Regions from separate parts of the Homo sapiens genome. Here region 2 is linked to region 1. The links come from fine-mapping of genetic effects on gene expression. Tissue or cell type: sun-exposed skin. Region 1 holds a variant in brackets; the other region holds the start of a gene. All regions are shown on one strand. Distances are from middle to middle.

The links. PIP is the estimated chance that this variant, and not a neighbour inherited with it, causes the effect.
Region 2: it holds the start of ATP13A4, and the variant in region 1 is fine-mapped to the expression of ATP13A4 in sun-exposed skin (GTEx, PIP above 0.99). The same link has a PIP of 0.9 or more in unexposed skin.

The regions. Positions count from the first base shown.
Region 1 is chr3:193,498,482-193,509,537 of GRCh38, forward strand. ATP13A4 (ATPase 13A4) reads right to left here. Exons shown (of 30, transcript NM_032279.4): 3 at 4,012-4,158. Among named protein-coding and RNA genes, the nearest start is that of ATP13A4-AS1, 49 kb to the right of the region's middle. The variant C/T (reference allele first, on the strand shown) is at 5,109.
Region 2 is chr3:193,549,463-193,560,518 of GRCh38, forward strand. It overlaps ATP13A4 (ATPase 13A4), which reads right to left and starts at 5,433. Exons shown (of 30, transcript NM_032279.4): 1 at 5,278-5,433. The coding sequence starts at 5,337. ATP13A4-AS1 (ATP13A4 antisense RNA 1) reads left to right here and starts at 3,751. Exons shown (of 2, transcript NR_121666.1): 1 at 3,751-3,825; 2 at 5,308-6,122.

The DNA.
Region 1 (11,056 bases):
CTAACTGAACACAAAAAGAAACAGCGAGACTGCCATATTGTCACAGAGCAATGGTTATTATACTCTCAGGCTGCTCATTGGAATCATCTGGGGAGCTTTGAAAAAGACTGCTGTCTGGCCCCACCCTTAAGGATTCTGATTTAATTTGTCTGCAGTGCATTCTGGGCATAATATTTATAATTTTCCTCACATAATTTTAATGTGCAGCCAACAGTGTCTAGAGCTTCCTTTTGTAGCTACTCTGCTAGATTCCTATTTGAGAACTTCAACTAAATTTTCCTGTGCTTCAGTTTCCCCATGAATAAATTTAGACAATTGGACAGATTATGTCTATATTCTACCTCAGCTTCTCTCTAGGTATTCTATGTGCAAGAATATTATAGTCATTATAACCATTAGATACATTTTAAAACTGGAAAGACCATATAGCTGGCACAAAATAAGTGCTCAATACATTTTTTTATTAAATAAATGAATGAAAGCTTTGTAAAACCGTGTCAACTAGAAATGCAGTTTAAATCCCTTAGCTCTAAGGTCTAGGTTACCAAAAATGAATGCTAACTCTATGCAATAGGTGTATGTACAGGTACACATGTGCACGTGTGCAAACACACACACAGACATTCAAAGTTACCAAATAGCATGTAAAATGCTGTATTTTTTTATTTTACAGAATGGATTTATTTCAGCAAGGTTGATTGAAACATAATGCATTTAAAAAGTATATCTTATTGCCGATTTAGAGTGAATTTCCAGTAGGAATGACACACAATCTCTCTCTAATTTGCAGATTTCACAATCTGCAAAGGAAATATTTGTAAATGACAGGCTCTAGGGTGTGTTAGCCATCATGACACATGTTGAAATCTCAAGCATCTTGCCTCACAATTTACTTTTCTCTTCAGTATTCTTTGCAATTTTGCAAATAGAGCAGGATTGTAATCACAGCTACTATTTTTTGGGCATGTTAGGACTTTTCACACGTTATGTTTAGTCTTTTCCATCATCCTGTGGTAGGGCAGATATTATTTTCCTCTTCACTTTGCGCCTGAAGTTCATTTTGCTTAAGTAACTTCCCAGGAATTTGAACTCCAGCCCATCTGGCTCCAGAGTTCAATCTCTCAAAGGATATCATATTCAAGCTAGTCCCAAAGGAAAATCTGAAAATCCATTGACTTCAGGATTCAAGCTGTATAAAGTGATGGCTATCTACTTATTAATTATATAAATGCAAAAATCTGTGTTAGAAATATTTTAAAGGACAAATTGTGGTTCCAATGTGAGGCCCCTGATCAGTTCGAGAACCTCTTATCAAGAGGCAGAAACCACACACTGAGGTTGAAAAATGTATAAAACATAATAGACATGAAACATCTGTAGATGAACGCAGCAATAATGAGAAATAAAGAGGCTACTGATAAGTTTTACCTCAGGCCAGAAAATAGAAAATTCCATTATCTTCTGACAATTTCTTAAGCCATTTCTCACAGAGTGAGAAGAATGGCTCCATCCTAGACCTTTTGAGCATATTTGAGATTCCCGCAGGAGAAAACATCTCTGCCAGGAGTTTATCTGCTTCCCCCATCACTCTCAGAGCCTCTGGAAGCTGGTAAGAGGATGTTAAGTACAATATTTGCAAGAGATGAGGTTTATTTGCCTATTTCCTGGAAATTCAGACCAGGAAACAGCAATTAGGAAACCAAGTATCTGCTGCGGGGTGAATTTCATCTTTCTGCTCAGGAATAAGGAAGATTTCCTCTCCCCGGGCTTTCTGCTTGTAATTTCTTGTTAGAACATGTTATAAGAGCATCCTGTTTAACAAGTTAAGCACTGGGTGTTAGCTTTGCCTGTAATCCTGCAAGATGGTCCTTAGCATCTCCTCTTAGCCTGTTTCCAAACCTGACATAGTTCTTTGCTGTAGTCTTCAGACTTCCTTTAAACCAGCGATCTCCAACCTTTTTTGGCACCAAGGACCGGTTTTGTGGAAGAGAATTTTTTCACGAATCTTGGGGATGCGGTGATGGTTTCGGATCATCAGGCAATCATTAGATTCTCATAAGGAGCACCGTAACCTAGATCCCTCACATGCGCAGTTCACAATATTAAGGATTTCACTCCTATGAGAATCTCATGCTGCTGCTGACCTGACAGGAGGCAGAACTCAGGAGGTAATGCTCGCCGGCTTGCCAGCAGCTCACCTCCTGCTGTGTGGCCTGGTTCCTAACAGGCCATGGACAGGGCACCAATCGGTGGCCTGGGGATTGGGGACCCCTCCTTTAAATGCCCCTAAATGGTTACCCTCTTGGTAATGCTGTTATTGTCATCAAGGCTGAGCCCATGACAGCTCCTCTGACTTTAAGGAAAGTTTTGTTACTAGCATAGCTCATTGAAGTTCACAAATGACCTTAATATCCATCGTCTCATTGTGTGTTCATAACAGCCCTGAGAAAGGCAAAGAAGGGGTATTACTTTTATTTTATAAATAAGAAACTCAAGACCAGAGAGGCAGTAACTAACCAAACTGCCTATGCCGTAGCTGGTAAATGAAGATAGTACACCTATCACAACTTTCCATTTCAAGACCTCTGCCCCTCCTACAATTCTGTGTGTTGACTTGGCCATTTCTTCATTTATCTGTCCACTTATTTATTTGATGCTACTAAAGATGCTAGAATTTCAGAGCAATAAAACTATGAGAACATAGGCTATCTGGGAAGCTTATTTCTCCAGGTGAATGGACATCTAACAGATTAGGGAAACTATTATTTGGAGGTACTTGACCTCCTTTGTTTTTGTTTATTTGGGCAGCTAAGACAGCTGAGTGGGTGGGGTGCAGTGGCACACCCCTATAATCCCAGCACTTTGGGAGGCTGAGGTTGGTGGATCACCTGAGGTCAGGAGTTCAAGACCAGCCTGGCCAACATGGTGAAATTCCGTCTCTACTGAAAACACAAAAATTAGCTGGGTGTGGTAGCAGGTGCCTGTATTCCCAGCTACTTTGGAGGCTGAGGCAGGAGAATTGCTTGAACCCGGGAGGTGGAGGTTGCAGTGAGCCAAGACAGCGCCATTGCACTCCACCCTGGGCAACAAGAGTGAAACTCCATTTAAAAAAAAAAAAAAAAAGACAACTGGGTGATAACAATTGACAATAGGAAAATTGCTCATAATTTACTTTATTACTTTAAATAACTGAACTTGAGCTCATAAAACTAATTTAAACAGCTGACCACACATACATAAATGTAAGACAAAACATTCTGTCTTATAAAATGTTTTTAATATGAATGTTAACTAGTCATAATCCAAGCAGAACTAATTTAATAGGGTGAAGAGGGAGCAACCCAAATACATTTGAATGACAAGAATTCAAATAAGGTCATTTTTGTAGGCATAAGCAAACCTCCTGGGATATTCCTGGGTGATTACTTTTACTATAAGATTAACCCTGTTACATAGATTGTAATATGGGGAACGATACTATTAGAGCTAATATGTAAGAGCTGGGCTGGGCGGTACATGCCTGCAATCCCAGCTACTAGGGAGGCTGAGGCAGGAGGATCACTTGAGCCCAGGAGTTTGAGGCTGTAGTGTATTATAATCATGCACCTGTGAATAGCCACTGCACTCCAGCCTGGGCAACATAGTGAGATCCTACCTCTAACAAAAGGAAAAGAAAATAGAGCGAGTATGTATTGAGCATCTGCTATATACCTGGAACTACTTTAATCTTTGTATTTCTAAATTTATTGAATTTTATCAATTAATATTAGAAATAGACATTATTATCATCATTTTGTAGATGAGAAAACAGGCTCAGCAGAGTTAAGATCAATGGTTGCGCTATTTAGAAGGAGCAAGCTGAGATTTGGACTGTCTGGCTCCAAAGTTCACATTTTAAATATACACTATCAAATGAGGATTGGCACAGTAGAGGAGCTACATTTAACTATATACTTGAGGGGAAAAAGATTAAATCTCTCTGACATCAGCAGTAGCCATAAGTTTACTTACCTTTAGGTCTGGCTTTCTTATGGCTCTATTTATGATATACTCCTCATCTGTCATGAGAGGGTGGTCAGGAGTGAGACCAAATGCGCTGTTTAATGCTGACAGGTAGATCCATATTACCTTTTTCCAAGAGTAAATTTGGAATTCATCCTGAGGAGATAGACATCAAAACCCCCAAGAAGTTAAGAGAGGTCAGCAGGCTACAATTCAACCTGAGAAACATCATTTTAATATAATTCTGTAAGTGTTTGGCGTTAGTGAATATTCTAGACAGAACGGTTTGTCTCTGAAAGATGATGGATCTAGAACCTTGAGGGAAAAAGACCTGTCATCACTGACTGAGGAATCTGGATATGAAGATGAGGCACTGACACATAACAAAGCTTGAGAATCAGGAGGCTCATTCGCAGGTAAGAACTAGTTCACTGCATCACCTTTCAACCACCTTTCAGCCCATGACCTGATGACCATCCCCATCTTTCAAGGCTTAACTCAAATTCCACCTCCTACAGAACAGCCTCATTAACACCCTTCCACCGGGGCGGGGCAGGGGGGGGAACTATCACTTTGTTAACTCCAAAAAAATGTTAAGTGTCCCTCTCTTGTGCTCTTAATCACTTTTTCTAGTCCTTCTAGACTACCTGGAATGCAGGGATCACGTTTTATTGTTCCTTATCTCCCATTCATGTGGAGCACTGAGACCTGCTCAGTCAGAGTCTGAAGAATGGAAGAAAAAAACTGAATCCATGGACTGAACCTGCCCAAGGTAATTGCCAAGATGTTAGCACAGGTGGGGTTGAAGAAGGCACCTTATTGCATGACCCTAATTAAAATTGCTTCCATTTGCAGTTCACTGATTACTTCACACAGAGTAAAATTAGAGGGAGAAGCACAGGATTGAGAAACAGATACCACAATGGTCCCTTAGAGACCTATTTGACAGTGGTTATTGTCTGAATAGGGAAATACTAAACATAAAACCCACTCAGATGACTGACAAACCTCAGGATTCAAGAAGTATAACAGAAAAAGTCAAACGTGGGAAAAATTTGATGCTTGGGAAATGTAGGTCAGAGCTGGAAATTGTCTCCACCACCACA[C/T]CCATTTTTGCTATGAAGAGTGCCCTAGCTGACTCTGCAAAAGGCAGAGAGGGGAAGATACAATCATTGTAGCTAATCTCTTATATTCATCCTCCTAAGAGAAGACCGTCTGTATGCCTTTGCTCCTGCTGCTTCCTTAGCCTGTAGTACACATTCTTCTCTCTTCTCCTTAAGTCTTTACATGGCTGGATTCTACCATCCTTCAGGGTCCAGCTCAGAGTTTATGTCCTGAGAACCTCCCTAATTACTCTGGGTGATCTCTCCTCTAAATCATCAGGATACTCAAGATTCCTACCACATTTTACCCTTTGCCTATCCACCTTACCACTTCTCTTGGACTATGGGTAGGAATTGTGTATGATGCATGTCTGCACTTCAGCCAGGCTTAGCACAGGTTCTGTGTGCATGTGTGTGTGTGTGTGTGTGTGTGTGAGAGAGAGAGAGAGAGAGAGAAAGAGAGATGAAGAAGGGAAGGAAGCCAACAAGAGGGGAAAATAACCTTAATAGAAATTGGAATATTAATTAATTAATCAATTTTAAAAGCCAATGTAATTGGCTGTTACACTGTGGATTTAAAAAAAAAGGTGACTAAATCAATTCAAATCAAATTGTATGGAGTTAAGAATGATGAGCCTAAGAATGGTGGAAGGGAGCTAAATTTTCAATGACTAAGTCACCGATCTGATGATAGACATGGTCTAGGTATGGTAGAGTAGGCAACCAACTCTCTTGAACAAACCTTGACACAGTTCAGCATTATATAGCTTTGCTTTTGACTTTATCAAAGCAGTTTTTAAGTAAGAACTTTCCATTTCTAATAACAGTTAATATTTATTTCACACTTATTATGTTCTAAGCACATAATGCTACATATGTATTATTTCATTTAATGTCAAAAACACTATGGAATTGTTACAGTTAATTATTCTCCCATTTAGTTGGCAAGGAAAGAAAGACATACTTGGTAACTATTAGAGCAGGCACTTAACAGTCACCTCCCCACTCCTGCTTGCCTCCTCCAGAGTCCCCTCTAACCTTCCACTTTATTCTACATTTTGCTAAAAAATATAATTTGATTGGACTGCCATTTTTATGTCGAGCCTGAACTGGAACTTCTAAAAAACATAGTTTCAATGAAAAATTTGGTAAGAAAATGTATAATTTGTAGGTAAATAGGAACACAAATTATAAAAGAGCCATCAAGACCAGAGACCTCTTGCCACCAAGTAGGGACAATTAGGAAGACAGCAACTATTAATCGTCTCCAGTGAATTAAAATAATATTAACAACTTTCATATGTTTACCTAGCAGTTTCATAATTTTCATATGATTACATAGCAGTTTGTAGAAATTTTGTTATGTTATCTTATTTTAGGCTTACAATTCTCCAGTGTTGGTATTATAATTATCTCCATTTTGCAGATGAGAAAACTAACCACCAGCAAGGCTAAGAATTGCTCAAGCCAGTCTGAAACTGGTAGTAGGAATAAAACTGAGACCTGAGTCCAGATCTTTCCATTCCAAATCTTGGTCCCTTCCTCTTTATTTCAACAAGTTGTCCCATGGTGTCTATGGCTTGCATGTAAAAATCACCTTGAATTCTGTACCAACTGACAAATAGTATCCAGTTTCTCACAATCTCTGCTCTCCTGACAGCATAGAATCTAATTCCTGAAATCAAGCTGTCACCCTCTGGCCCTGTGTGACAGCAGACAGACCTCCAGACTGTAATGCCTAAAGAGGGAAAAGCAAAGTGTCCAGGTTCTCAAAGGCCATATTAATCCAGTGCACCAACTAACTGTATGCCTTAGTCTAGGTGTGTATTAAAAACTGACATTCATCTATACACCTATCTCTTCTTATAGCTCATAATATTATCAAATCAAAGGTACTTGGATATATTTGCCTTTAAGCTCATTTCCTAACATCCCCATTTACTCCCAATCCCAATACTCATAATTCTGTATGATACAAAGTAGAATAAAATAATTCTACTAATTATGTATCATACATAATTCTGTATGATACAAAGTAGAAAAAATAAAAGATAGGACAGCTAGATGACCCTTTTGCTTAGAGTAGGGGAGTGACACTGACTTCTCTCTTGTATACTACCCTGTTGAGGACTCTGTCAAATCACCCAGCTTTTTAAGGAAAAAAAGCAAAGAAATGGAAGGAAAGTACACCAGTGTGAAGTGGTCACTTCAGGCAAAATCATTGACTTCTCAGTTTTCATTTTGGGGTTGTCCAATATGGCAAGAGCACAGGCTTGAGGCCTGAACTCAAATCCCAGCTCTAAACTGTCTTACAACTGTCTGAAGCTAATTTTCTTTATTTAGAAAATGGAAGTAATACCAAATTTCATGGATGTTTGAAGGATTAAATGAAGTATACATAATGTGTCTGATCTAAGGTTTGGCCCATAGCAGGGAGGCAACAAATGGTATGGCTCTGTGCCTCATTTTTCATAGCATGTTGTTTCTGAGTTCTTTCTGTAAGTAGGAACTTATTCTCCCTTTGAGGAAACTCTAAAAGTCTCTCAATTTTTCCTTTTTGGAAAAGCAGCATCTTTGCCTGTAAATGGCTTCTTCTACTTTAGTCTGTTTCCCAGCTCTCTTCAAAGCAGGTAATGATTTGTAAAATACTTAAATGTACCAGAGGAGCTACCATTTTAAATAATTGGTTTATAATGCAAATAATGCAAAGTGCTTGCCTGGCAAATCTGGACTTTTTACACCTCAGGTCTCATTGAGAAGGCTTTACCTCCTCTTTATCAAAAATATTAACCGGATCAGTCCTTGAACTCTAAAAAAATAGGTTTTACAAAAATTCAAGAGTGCATTTCAAAAGTCGAATGTATACAAAGGACCAGTGTTTGACCTGGACTGAAAAACAGAGGGAGAAACCTGGACATTTTTTATTTCCTGTGGTTTTGTACTTTCTGACCCTGGAAATGCCAGATAAACTTTTAGACTTGAATGAAGCAAGCTATCTCGTGATATGGTTTGGCGGTGTCCCCATCCAAATCTCCTCTTGAATTGTAGTTCCCATAATCCCCTCATGTCATGGGAGGGACCCAGTGGGGGGTAATTTAATCATGGGGGCAGTTACACTCATGCTGTTCTCATGATAGTGAGTAAGTTATCACGAGCTCTGATGGCTTTATAAGGGGCTTTCACCCTTTTGCTTGGCACTTCTCCTCGCTGCCAGCATGTGAAGAAGGATGTGTTTGCTTCCCCTTCCACCATGATTGTAAGTTTCCTGAGGCCTCCCCAGACATGCTGAACTGTGAGTCAATTAAACCTCTTTCCTTTATAAATTACCCAGTTTTGGGTATGTCTTTATTAGCAGCGTGAGAACAGACTAACACATCTTGCTTAACCTAATTCTATCCTTTTACAATAAGAACCTCATCCCTTGAAATTTAAAAGCAATATAATGGTTGCTTCAAGTTCAGGCCAATGCTGTGACCTCTCTTGTATAGTTCACTACACAAAAAAATGTAGTTCTGGCTTGCCTTAAAAAGAACCCATTTCAAAGTTCCAATGAGACATTAGAAAGTGAGTAATTTTCTCCTGGAGATGGATACATTGCAATGCTAAAAGGCTGAACTCTAGCTCATGTGAAATACCTAGAGGATTATGGATAATGTAATAATAAATTTCTCAGGCTATTCTAAAATGCTGCACTGCCTTTATAGACCCATAACTTTGGTAAAATTCTTTTATTTTTACAGCTATCATTTTTTTTCTTTCTCTTTCCCTCTCCTGGCCAGACTCATTGATGCTCTTAACATCCCGACCTCATATTCCCAATGTCTTTTAGTTGGAAAAAAGTTGACATTGGCTAGAATATAGGATTTAGTTATAATATACATAAAGTTCTAAGTTTTGGAGAAATTCTCACAATAATTATTATCTCAGTATATGTTGTCCAAAAAAAAAGAGGAGGGAGGGACAACACAATGAGGTTATTAACAAAGCAAAGGCTATGTTTATGTTTGTGTACAAAACAAGGAAATCTAGCAAACTCAGCATACATTTTTTTGGAGGGATGGGATTTGGGGCTTGCTCATTTTTGTAGCTGTTTTCTGAGGGGAAATGGAGCAGTGGATTAGCGGGTCATCGTCTGAAACTTCTGGAGATATAGTGTGTAGTAAAAAGTTGACTAATGCCCATGGAATGCCTGCATGCCAAGCAGTCTTTATTTCAGAACTTTACACATATCACATCCTTAGTTCTCACAAGGAGATAGGTATTATCATCAGCCCCGGTTAACAGAAAAAAAATGGAGGCAAAAAGAGGTTAAATAACCTGCCTGTTATGAATTGAGTTGTGTCCCCTCAAAATTCTCATGTTGAACCCCTCACCTCCAACATATTTGGAGATAAAGCCTTTAAGAAGGTAATTAATGTTGAATGAGGCCATAAGGGTACACACTAATCCAAAAGGACTAATGTCCATATGAGATGAAGAGACACCAGGTGTGCAAGAGCACAGAGAAAAGACCCCATGAAGACACAGTGAGAAGACAGCCTTCTTCAAGCCAGGAAGAGAGGCCTCACCAGAAACCAACTCTCCTGGCCCTAGATCTTGGACTTTCGGCTCCCAGAACTATGAAACAATAAATTTCTGTTATTTCAGCAAAACCTGGTGTGTGGTATTTTGCTATAGAAGCCTAGCAGGCAAATACACTGCCCAAGGTCAAGAGCAGTGCTGGGAATCAAATCCAGGTACTCAGAACCTAGAGTTTATTCTTAAACCACTTCACAATGCTGCCTCTGTAGAATCTGGTCACTGGACAGAGAATAATTAGATCTCTAGTTCCAACTCTAGTTCAACTCTCATCTTCCGGCTATGGGACCCTGAGAATTTTGTTTAATTTCTCTATGCCTCCATCTGTAAAACTGGAGAAAAAAATCTCTACTGGTAAGGACCAAATGAGACAACTATATGTAAATTGTTAAATCGTAATATAAATGGCCCTGTATTATAAAGGATAATAGTCTCAAAACGATTTATCTTAACATTGAGTCATTTCTCAGAGGCCAGCTCACAGAATCTCAGAGATTTGTGGTGAGATGTCTAATGAAAGACCAGGTTGAAATGGGACTGAGTTGGGGAGTGGGTAGGAAAGCAGGATTCAGAAGTGGGAATGTGTACCTGAAAGAAACATAATGCTATATTCTCTTTCTCAACTGTGACATTCCACTTTAGTATCCTTGAGATAAAATTCTGGTAGAAACAGTGAGACTATTTATTATAGATTCAACTTAATTCAACGTATTAAATTAAATTAAATAACTAAGTCCTGCTGTGGCCATGTGCTAGGTGCCAGGGGGAATGAAATGTATACCACAATCACTGTCTTCAAAAAGCTTATAATCTAGACTGTCCAGGAAAAAAAAAAAAAGCTGAGAAGTTCCAGGAATAGAAAGCTTATAATTTTAAAGGATCAAAAGCTACAAAAAGGAATCCAGCACAGTGAGAAAAAAAAGATTCGGGACTTAGAGAAAGTCTTAGGTTTAAGTTCTTTGCCCCCATATTCCCTCCACCTGCATCACTCTCCATGTGCCTGCCCCCAGCAGCCACCATCACCTTTTAACTCTTATCCTTTGGTGCTCAGAAAGCCTTCCCTGACTGTTTTGACTTGGCCAAATCTCTATTATGTAATCCTACCATAACCTGGAGCCTTTCCTAAGGAGTACTTTTAAGAGGTGGATTTTTACATTTATTTGTGTACCGATCTGATTAACTCCATGAGGTCAAGAACCCTGGTTTTATTAATCACACACACTTACACACTTGCCCATGAGCCAGCACTGTTGGCTGGCATACAATGTGTGCTCCTCAAATGTATAAAAAAGAGAGAGATATAAGGAAGGAAAGCCTGGCTTTGATATTTACTGGGTTGTAAAGTCACTTGGTCTCTTTGTATCCTCATCTGT
Region 2 (11,056 bases), 51 kb after region 1:
TAAAGCATTTGTAAGTATAATGGAAAGTCTAATTTTTTTTAAAGTAGAGATAGAATCACTCCATTTTTGTTAAAAAATACATATTGGCCAGGTGTGGATGCTCACGCTTATAATTCCAGCACTCTGGGAGGCCAAGGCAGGTGGATCTCTTGGGTCCAGGAGTTTCAGACCAGCCTGGGCAACATGGTGAAACCCTCTCTCTACATAAAATACTGGAAAATTAGCCAGGCATGGTGGCATGCGCCCGTGGTCCCAGCTACTCAGGAGGCTGATGTGGGAGGATCACCTGTGCCTGGGAGGTTGAGGGTGCGGTGAGCTATGATCACACCATTGCACTCCAACCCAGACAGAGACCCTTTCTCCAAAAAAAACTAACATGAAAAAGATACATATTTCTAAGTATATGTATATTTTTTAAGAATAGAATTTTTAAATCAATGGAATAATCTTGTTTTGCCATGATGCAAACAAACGGATGATATCCAAAAACAATATTCATGTTGTTTTTCAACATGTAGCGGGGAAAAGGGAAATTATGAGGCAACAATATGTTCAGTGATGTGCTGGTAAGTATTTAACAAATGGCCTTCAGGCGGGGCAGGGTGGAAGTCCCGTTGTAGTATCCACAGATTTCTGTGGCATAAATAGCACCAACATTATTTATTTCAAGCTACCAATGTGATGTCACTGAATTAGGAGTTCGGAAGAAATACAATTGCACCATGCTGTGTAATACCACTACCTAGTATTTCCATGATACAGATAAATTAGGTGCAAATAATCTCAAAAGCACAGATAAGTATGAAGATAGAGCAAAATAGTTAGAAAGTGGTGAATTTTAGGTTTTTTTTTTTTTTTTTTTGAGACGGAGTCTCACTCTATCCCCCAGGCTGGAGTGCACTGATATGATCTCAGCTCACTGCAGCCTCAACCTCCTGGACCAAAGCGAGCTTCCCACCTGAGCCTCTCAAGTAGCTGGGACTACAGGTGGATACCACCACATCCAGATAATTTTTTTGTATTTTTATAGACAGGGTTTCACTATGTTGCCCAGGCTGGTCTGGAACTCCTGGGCTCAAGCAATCTGCACGCCTCAGCCTCCCAAAGTGCCGGGATTACAGGCTTGAGCCATGGCGCGCAGCCTGCATTTTTTATTGACATGTCTGGTGGTAAACTCATGAAGCATATTTACTTCATTCTTTAGATCCTTATTTGCCATTTCAATATTTTTACAATAAACATATGTTACCTTTATAATCAGAAAAGAATTCAAAGGTTTTTTTATTTTTTGTCTTATTTGTTAAGGCCTAGAGAAAAATATCAGGGAACGTTACTTTTTAAAAGTCTCACTGGAACAAAACACTTCCCCAAAAGATTGATTGTGTTAAGGTGTAACTAAAGAGCAATGTTAGAATCAATTAAGCCATGATACCTTCGTTCAGCCATGGTATAAGGAAATGGTTCTAAATTCCTTCAAAATAGAAATACAAAACGTCAGGACTCAAAGAGATTTGTGCTCCCAGACATTCTCATACTCTCACTTTACAAATAAGGAAGCTAAAAAAGGTAGGTGTTTTCCCAACGTATGCACAAGGTAAGTAGAAGATAACCCAGCTCCTCTCCATTTATAAGTGGTCTCTACGGCCTATGAATAAAAGTACATATTCCTGGCCAGGTGCGGTGGCTCATGCCCATAATCCCAGCACTTTGGGAGGCTGAGGCAGGTGGATCACAAGGTCAAGAGATTAAGACCATCCTGGCCAACACGGTGAAACACCATCTCTTCTAAAAATACAAAAAATTAGCCAGGCATGGTGGCATGCAGCTGTAGTCCCAGGTACTCGGGAGGCTGAAGCAGGAGAAACACTTGAACCCAGGAGGCAGAGGTTGCAGTGAGCCGAGATCACGCCACTGCACTCCAGCCTGGCAACAGAGCAAGACTCCGTGTAACAAAAAGAAAAAAAAAAAGTACATATTCCTTTTGGTATAACTGAATGGCAAGAGATGACCTCATTTTTGTGGGATAGTATTTACTCAATTGGTTAATTGCTAAGCCCTTGGCTTTTCCTACCTTTATTTAGATGATAGCAGCTCACACCTCGCCAGAACTGTTTACTTCTCAAAACATGTTTATATGGATTATCTCCACTGATCTTCATGAGAACTCTGTGAGTCTGGTGGGGGTAAGAAGGACCAGTCCTATTTTACAGGTATAAAAACTGAGGCTAGAGCAGGCAAGCGGCTGGCCCAAGGCCGGTGAGAGCCAGGCCTCCCGTCCCGTCCCAGTGCTCTCCCAGAGTTTCCTCCTCGAAGCCTTTCTGAGGCAGTCATTTAGGTGAACCTTCGCTGAAGGCCACTTTCTCACCTTTCCTTCCTTCTCCCTCCAAAAGCTTCTTTCTACCTTTGGGTCCTGTCTCATTTCGCAGTTAAAGATATTATTTTCAGGTCACCTAGGGTTGCTCTTTAGTTCCTGTTTGCTTTTGGTTTGTTACTTGTTTATTTATTTATTTTTATCTATTTACTTATTTTTGAGACAGAGTCTTGCTCTGTTGCCAGGCTGGAGTGCCATGGCGCGATCTTGGCTCACTGCAACCTCTGCCTCCCAGGTTCACGCCATACTCCTGCCTCAGCCTCCCAAGTAGCTGGGACTACAGGTGCACGCCACCCTGCCTAGCTAATTTTTGTGTTTTTAGTAGAGATGGGGTTTCACCATGTTGGCCAGGATGGTCTCAATCTCTTGACTTGGTGATCCGCCCGCCTCGGCCTCCCAAAGTGCTGGGATTACAGGCACGAGCCACCATGCCCAGCCTGTTTTTGGTTTTTTAACTCCAAAATGGAAGATAATCCCAGGCATCTTTAGGCCTCAGAATATTCTTCTTTATTTGACATGAGGTCTAAACCCTAGCATGTTGTTTTCTCTTGAAATTTGAAGTAATTTCTACCACAAGAGAAATTACGTTTGCAAAGGTTCAAGTAAAGTATATTATAAAGCATGAAACTAAACACTTTGGTGTGACACATTTCTGGACTTGGAAGTCAGAGAAGACAGACTTATTTAAGCTACTCGAATTATCTAGAAGAAAAAAGAAACTCAAATTATCTATAACAGAACAGATGCTGGGGAATCTAAGAAGACTGGATGTTGATGTTCTCCTTAGCTTTGTTTTATGAAGGAAGGGAATGTGTTCTGTTAAGAGTGGAATGTTCTCCGGAAGAACTGGAAAAGGTATCAGTGGGCTATGTTCAGGTCCAGAGACAAAAGAGCTGTCAACTTAAACTAACCTGTGCGGTGCCTCAGCTCCTGGACTTACTGGTTGATGCAACCTTAGGGAAAGCCTGTGTGCATCAATTTCCTCATCTTTAAAGTTAGAATCACAGCATCTACCTCATAGGGTTGTGAGGAAAACTAAATTAGCTAGTGGCCAAGAAAATGCTGTGTATACTAAAAATCACTACAAAATATGTAGACTATATATATAGCTTGATAATTTTTAAAGTTTACTGCTCTGGGCAAGGGATGGAGGAGTGAGTTAAAAAGGAACACAGTGTCAGACACAGCAACAGGCAGGTGGCCAGGTTTCTGTAGGCAGAAGAGGATGGAGAGCTCAGGAGTGCATACTAATTGCTGCACCTCTGCTGAGACTACTGGCCAAATGGCTGCCTACCAGAAAACACAGTGTCCCTTTCCATATTAAAGGGCCTCTCCTAACTGGGCTTTCAGCTGCATACAAAACTACGTGGAGTTCTCCATGCATCTGATGGTGCCATTATGAAGATGAACTGTTAACTAAATTGCTTTGGTGGAATATGTATGCTAGGGAAGAGGTAACAGTTTCCCTACAACCATGAATGTCTTCTGGAAAATAAATGATTCTTATTGAGACTTGAAAGACAAATTGTCTGAGAGCAGAAAGGGGTTTACTGGAAAAGAGTGAGTGTATTTCTAAATGAGAGAGAAAAAAAATGTTTCAGAGGAAGGAGCCCCTGCCTTCTGGTGAAGAGTATTCAAGATGAAGATAAACTTTTCAACTTAATATCGAGAGTAATGAGATATTCACTTCCTAAAGAAAACTCTTTAAAGAAACAAAGATGATATCCAATGTGGGCTAGCAAGCCATTTCTGGTGACATTTGTGGAGGGGCTGAAGGCAATTCATTTGGCAGTCAAATCTGAATGAAGTAAAGGATATGGTTAAGAAAGGCACCTGAATTAATGTACATTTTACTTCTTTATAATTTTTTCAGCTTTGATAGCAGAAGGGATCTACTCTTGAAAGTCCAAAAAATGTTGTTGCTATAGGAACAGGTAAGCAGATTAGACTTGAAAGACCAGTTTAGGAACAAAGAATGTAATAGTCAGGGCTAAAGCAATTAACCAAGAAAACATTTTAAGTAAATATCTTTCAGGTTTGTTATTTACATATTAATTCCAGGAAGATTAAATGCTATTATGGAATGAGAGCGTCACATTTTAACATTTTAATTACATCATTACTGGCATAAAAGACTATGCTTACACAATTAGCAGAAAGATCTTATTAAACAGAAGTACATATTTCTAACTCTCTCTTGATTATATTGTAATTGAGAAATACAGTTTTAAATTCATCCTGAGCATGAAAGTCATCTTTGATTTTCCTATAGTTCTCAAGATAGAAGCACATCTAAAATCAAAGAGATACTGAACTACCGAAAGTTTTCTGTAACCAATCTCTATAATGAGGAAGCCACAAAAGTAAAATTCTAGAAGAAAACAGAAATGTGTGTAGGCTGATAATTGTTAATATTGCATGTCTTCCCTGTCCAACAGACTCGGTGAACAAGACATTTGAGAAGAGAAGGTCAAAGACCCAGCTGCACTTCTGCTTCACTGCTGAACTTCTGCTTCTTCCTATCAGGGAATACACTGCTCCTCACATTAGGGATTTCCTAAAATTGTTAGGTGTTTTGAACAGAACTGGCTATACCAATGAGGCTCAAACAAGAATCATAAAGTGCATGGTGCTTCTCTCCCTCTCTGTTTTCTTTAAAAAGAAAACATTCTTGACAAGATGAATACAATATTTTCATTCTAGCAAATTTCTGCTGTCAGAGGTTATATTTACAGGATAGAGAGATTTCTCAAACATGACCTTTTCTCGTGTAATACCAGAGTGAAATTTTAGAAAAGTCTGTGTGTGTGTGATGCGTGCGTGTGTGTGTGTGTGTGTGTGTGTGTGTGTGTGTCTCGCAGGCTGAGAAGTGGGATGGGAAGAAGGGAATGTGGCTAGAATCTTACCATCTCATTCTCTTCTCCTTCATTGAGCAGAGCGTGCTGGCCCTTCTCAAAGTGTCCCATGAAAAAGTTATTCCACACCTCCTCCCTGACCTTGTCGTGCAGACGCTTCCAGGATGAACTCCAACTCGCCGAGCCACCGCAGCTCCTCAGCTGACTAAAAGAGTTAATGATCCTCCAGGTTAAAACTCCTCCTTGAGCACACACCTTCTCTCAACAAATGACAATACTTGGCAAACTGAACTCCTCCCACGAGTCGCCCTCTGCTAGGAGGAATTGCTGGCTGCTCCCTGCTTATTGCATTCTCTCAGAGCAGCTGTCTCAAAGGAGGCTGCTCCCATGCCGATCTTTTTGTGCCCAACTTACAGGGAAAGAACTCATTGCCTGCCCAGTGCCTGCCAGCCTCAGACTTCTGACTGCAAATCCAACAGGACAATACAGAGTTGGCAGGACCCTTCTCAGGAGTGAGGAGCGGGTGCAAGAACTCCCAGGTCACTGCTTTATTCAGAGGACCTAAGGAATTGGGTTGAGCGGAAGCGCACAGAGCTGCAGATTTTCTTTGATGAATGAAAGCTTCAATCCACAGGTTTCTAATAGTACTCTCATTCATTTTGCTTACAAAAGGTACAGATTATCACTAATCCTCTTCAAAAGGTATTTGTAATCACATTTCCTTGTATATGCAAAAAAAATTCTATTTAAAGTGTATGTGAAATTAAGTTTACTTTTTTGAAACACATGTAGAAAAAGAACAAAGGTATCATCAAACTAGTCTATGTAGTCTCCTTTCACTAAAATATTGATGGTTCAACACTTAAGGAAGTCTAGAAATAAAATATTCAAATGACTATATGGCCAGACTCTTTTTTAATTTGTTTACACATTTATTCAATAAACAGTGCCTGAGCACAGGGACTACCTAAAAAAGTTAAGTCATATTTGCTACCCTCGTGTTGATGTAAGGATTCAAACATCCAAACAAATATGATAGAAAGTGGATTGTTATTATAAGAGATGGAACAGAAGTCTAAGAAAACTGTCAGAAGTCCCAATGTGGTGTAGAGAAACACACCCCTACCCTAGCTCTGGCAAAATACCTGTATTCCAGCTGCTTGTCTGCACTGGCCTTGCTGTGTGATCATTTAACTATAGGAACCGGCTCTTCTCATCTGGTACCGCCCGACAGGACTTTTGAGAGAATGGAATGAGATCATTGTGAAAGTACATTGTACAGCACTGATCAAGTGCTGTTAGGATTATTAAACTAAATGTGCATTTGAACAGTAGGTGTTAGGACATAGTGGCTAAGGGCATATACACTAAATTTGGAAGGCCTGAGTTCAAATTTGGACTGTACTAGGTGGTCGTTGTGCTACCTTGGGATATAACAAGTTATACAAACTCCATTCTCCTCTATTTCCTCACATGTAACATAAAGATGATGATAATAGAACCTACGTCCTAAAACAGACTTTTAAGAAAGAGTGCCTGGGAAATAATAGGTGTTCCACAAAAGATAGTTATTTTTACCTTCACCATGTCCACTGTCTGTCCCTCAAGCTACATTGGCAATGATATCTCCAACCTGACCCAAATAACCCTAATGTGACCAAGATCAATGTGTGCATGTGTGTGTGTGTATATGTTGTATGTGTAAAACCTTGAGCAAATAGTGAAGTATAGGATAAACATAAAAAGTAAGCTAAGTAAACCCATTGTAATAGTAATTACAAAATATATATGTACGTGTGTGTGTATGTGTGTGTGTGTGTGTATATATATATGTAGTTCTCTTGGTTTCAAAAATTTGCTAGCACAATTTAACCAAATAAATGAAAATAAAATTAACATTTTATCACAAGGTCAAAATATAAGGAGTAAAGGGTTTATGGGGGGGGTAATAAAAATGTTCTAGAACTACTGATGGCTTCAAAAATTTGTGAACATACTAAACCTCACTGAACTCTATACTTTAAAAGGGTGAATTTTATGAAATGTGAATTATATCTCAATGAAGAGATATAACAAATTTAAAAATCATACCTCAATAAAAAATTATACCTCAAAAAAACCTAACTGAACATTTAACAGCCTTACTAGGCAGTAATTATATATTTAGTACAGAAAAAAATATAAAACAAGCATATTCCAAATTTCATCTCAACTGATGGAGGTTGAGGAGTGTTAGTATGTGACGTGGTGAAACTATATCAGTGCTCCTGGGCAGGTGAGAAAGAAGTAATTCATTCTCCTGTTTATCACTGGCAATATTTGCAGTTTCCTTTTGGCTGGGTTCCTGAATGCACTTGGCAACTCTTGCACCGTTGTGGGATTGAGATGAGTGTGTAACTGATTAACAGCTAGAGGAGAAACTGTACACAAACTTACCCCATCAAATAAATCAGGTCATGCTGCTACAATATTTAAGCTAAACTTGAACAGGAAAATATGTAAGTCCTTAAGAACATTAAAAGCTTTTATAAAAATCAGATGTCCATGGAAAATTATTTTCCACAAACCTGGTTCAATAGAGCTGAGGACTCCAGTAGTGAGAGAGTTTCCTCAGGTTCCTTGGGAGTTCTATTGGTAAAACATCTAGATTTTATCGATGGCAACACTGCTTATGGACAGCACTCACCCTCATTTAGTGATTTTGGTCTACAAACATAACCATAACCAGAAACAGGGCTAGGTTGTGTGGGAAAGCAAAGAGAACATTTACAGAACACTTCCACATATGAGGCACAATTCTAAACAGTTTACACTCACTGTTGCACACAATCCTGACAAAAGCCTCTGTGGTTGATACTATTCTGGTCATTCTTATTTGACAGACAAGGAAACACAGGTGCAGACATTAAGTAATTTGCCTACATTCAAACCATTAGTAAGTGACAGAATGAGTATTCGGACCTAGGCAATGCAGCTCTCCCAATCCGTGATCCTAGTTACTGGACTAATACCTCTTCTACACATTTATTTGGCACATCCAAAGTGCTCTGCAAAGAGGTTTGCATTTATATGACCAGAAAAGCCTCTTTGTGAAGGAAGCATTTTGAGAAAGGCCTTGGAAAGAGCCAAAAATGCTTCAACAGGTGGAGATGCTGAGGCTCGGACAAAGAGTAAGGCCGCAGGAAAGAGCATTTGAAGCAAGGGAATCATCAGAGGAAGAAACACATGGTCATGTTCAGAGCAAGCCCATCAGCCTCACTGCAGCATGGGCTGCATGAAGGAAGAAGAGGGGAGTGACATGTGGCAGGGAAATATGGACCAACGCCATGCATGGAGGTCCTGAATGCCAGGTCTGAGTCTGAGCTTAGTGCACAGAGTGACAATAACATGGAAGGCAAACTGAACTCCATAAATATCCCTACTGTTCCTGATCAGCCTGTGCTCTCATATTATAGGAATCAGGTCCAAAGCGACTCAGTCCTTCTATGCAATACTGTATTTATGTAGACAGTTTTCTTGAACCTTCTAAGTTAAGTCTTCTATTTCTCTTAGGAACATTGTTTGAAAAGTTATTCTTGAATTCACCCTCCCTTTCCTTAATTGTGCCTGTTCAATATTTCTATTCTATACTCTACGTGCCTCACGGGTTGTGATGTGGCGTAGTAAGAATGGCAGATGAGGATTTGGTGTGGTCTGAATTCTAATCTTGACATTTTCCTGAAGGATTCCATTCACTCATTCACTTAGCACTAGTTTGATTAACTTCAGTATGCCCAGATCTGTAATAGATGAAGAATAGAGATTTAATAAATTATGCCCCAGAAAAGTTAAGTCCATTAAGAAACAAGACCAACACCAAAATATAAATTCCACATAATATGCTAATTACACAAGAGTGACAGAGGAACTTCAAGTAGGGAGTTAGGCCAGGAAACCCTCACAAGGATAGGAGTTTTATGCTTGTCTAGATAAATACAGGTGGGAAAGGAAAGCATTATTAACAAAGGAGACAGAGAGCAAAAGCACAGATGAGGGCTCGCACACAGCCCATTCTGGGGGCTACAAATTATACACATATATTGATATCTCAGAATTGAGAGGAATGTCCAAAAGGAAAAGTACCTTCGTTCATTCTCTGATTCTCTCCCTGAACTCATTTTTTCTCAAATACTCTCTCCCAAATAAGAATGGGAACGGAAAATAAAAAGGACAAATACTTAGCTACCTCTGCTGATCTGGCATCTCGGTTTGCTTTTGATTATCTTAGGAGCATGCCTGTTGTTCTGAGCAGTTCTCAACCTCTGTGATTGTCTAGAATAGATGTCCAATGGAAATAATGGCAGGACCGGTTTCTCTGCCAGGGCCGTGGGGATGCTGATGCTTCACTTGTCTGGCCCATTTAGGTTTTGTGATGATAAATGGTAATAATGTTTCATTATATGTTAATTTCCATCTTTCATCTGAGAACTCACAGCATATTACAAATATTGTTTTTTGCAACATCTCTGTGAAGTAGGGAGGTGAGTAGTATCATTGCTCCCATTTGAAAGCTGTAGGAACTGAGTCATAAAGAGGTCACAAAGAGCTGTTCAAGGTCATGTGTCTTTACCATGGAGAGGAACCTGAAACAAGTGCAATATCTCTGCCTTGTCATCACTGGCAATAAGCTGACTCAGTCTTCCTCCTCAGCCCTCATTACACAAATCTGCTATTTGTAAAGTACTTGAGACCTTTAGTTATAGAACTTTATCTAAACTCAAGGCTTTACCTTTAGTATTAATTATCCTAATCTGCTCTAAAATAGTCTGTGGTAGCAAGCAAAGATGCCATATCCCAAAGAGGAATTACCTGCCTCAAGGTGGTGGTGCAAAGTCTAATTGAATTAATTAATGTTTGTAAAACATTTAGCAACCCTTAGATTAAAGGGTCTAATACAAAGATCCAGGGACTCCCCATTAATTACAGAAGAAAAGAGCAGGCTGATGCTGTCTCTGCTTCTCAGAGGACTTGCTCTCAAATATCCCCGTTCAGCACCAGGTCTGTTCTCCCAGTGCCTTGGGGTGGCCTGTTGTTTCCCTTTCAGAAGAGTCCTCTTTGCTTTCTGTTATTTCCAAAAATAGGAAATTAAAAGCTGCTCTCTGGAGGTAAGGCAGCTCCCCTTCTGTGAAGCTTACCTCAGTTGACAGCTGTTATAACAATTCCAGGTCATTAAGGACAACCTATAAAAACAAAATCCAAAAGAGATGGTCCCCAGGCAGAAGCTTCATGTCAGTGTACTTAATTTTGAGAACTTTTAACCTAAAAATTTGAATATACAAAACAATACAAGTTATGGTGCTATTATTAACAATCAGAGACTATTAGACTGGGCCTTAGAAATTACTAAGTTACTTTCATTGTTTCTTCGGTGAGAAAAAAGTTACTGGATGACTGTGTAACGATTTGTCCAAGATCACAATCTGCGAAAGCTAAAACTCTCAAGTCTTATATATGATATACTTCACACAACATCATATTGCTACTCACTTTTTTTTTTTTGAGACAGGGTCTCGCTCTGTCACCCAGACTGGAGTGCAGAGGTGCAATCATGGTTCACTGCACCCTCAATCTCATAGGCCCAAGGGATCCTGCCACCTCAGCCTCTCAAGCAGTTGGGACTACAGGCAAGAGCCACCATGCCCAACTAATTTTTGTTCTTGTTTTTTGTAAAGACAAAAAACATGTTGCCCAGGCTGGTCTTGAACCCTGAGCAAAAGCCATCCACCCACCTCTGTCTCCCAAAGTGCTGGGATGACAGGTGTCAGCCACCATGCCCGGCTGCTACTCACTT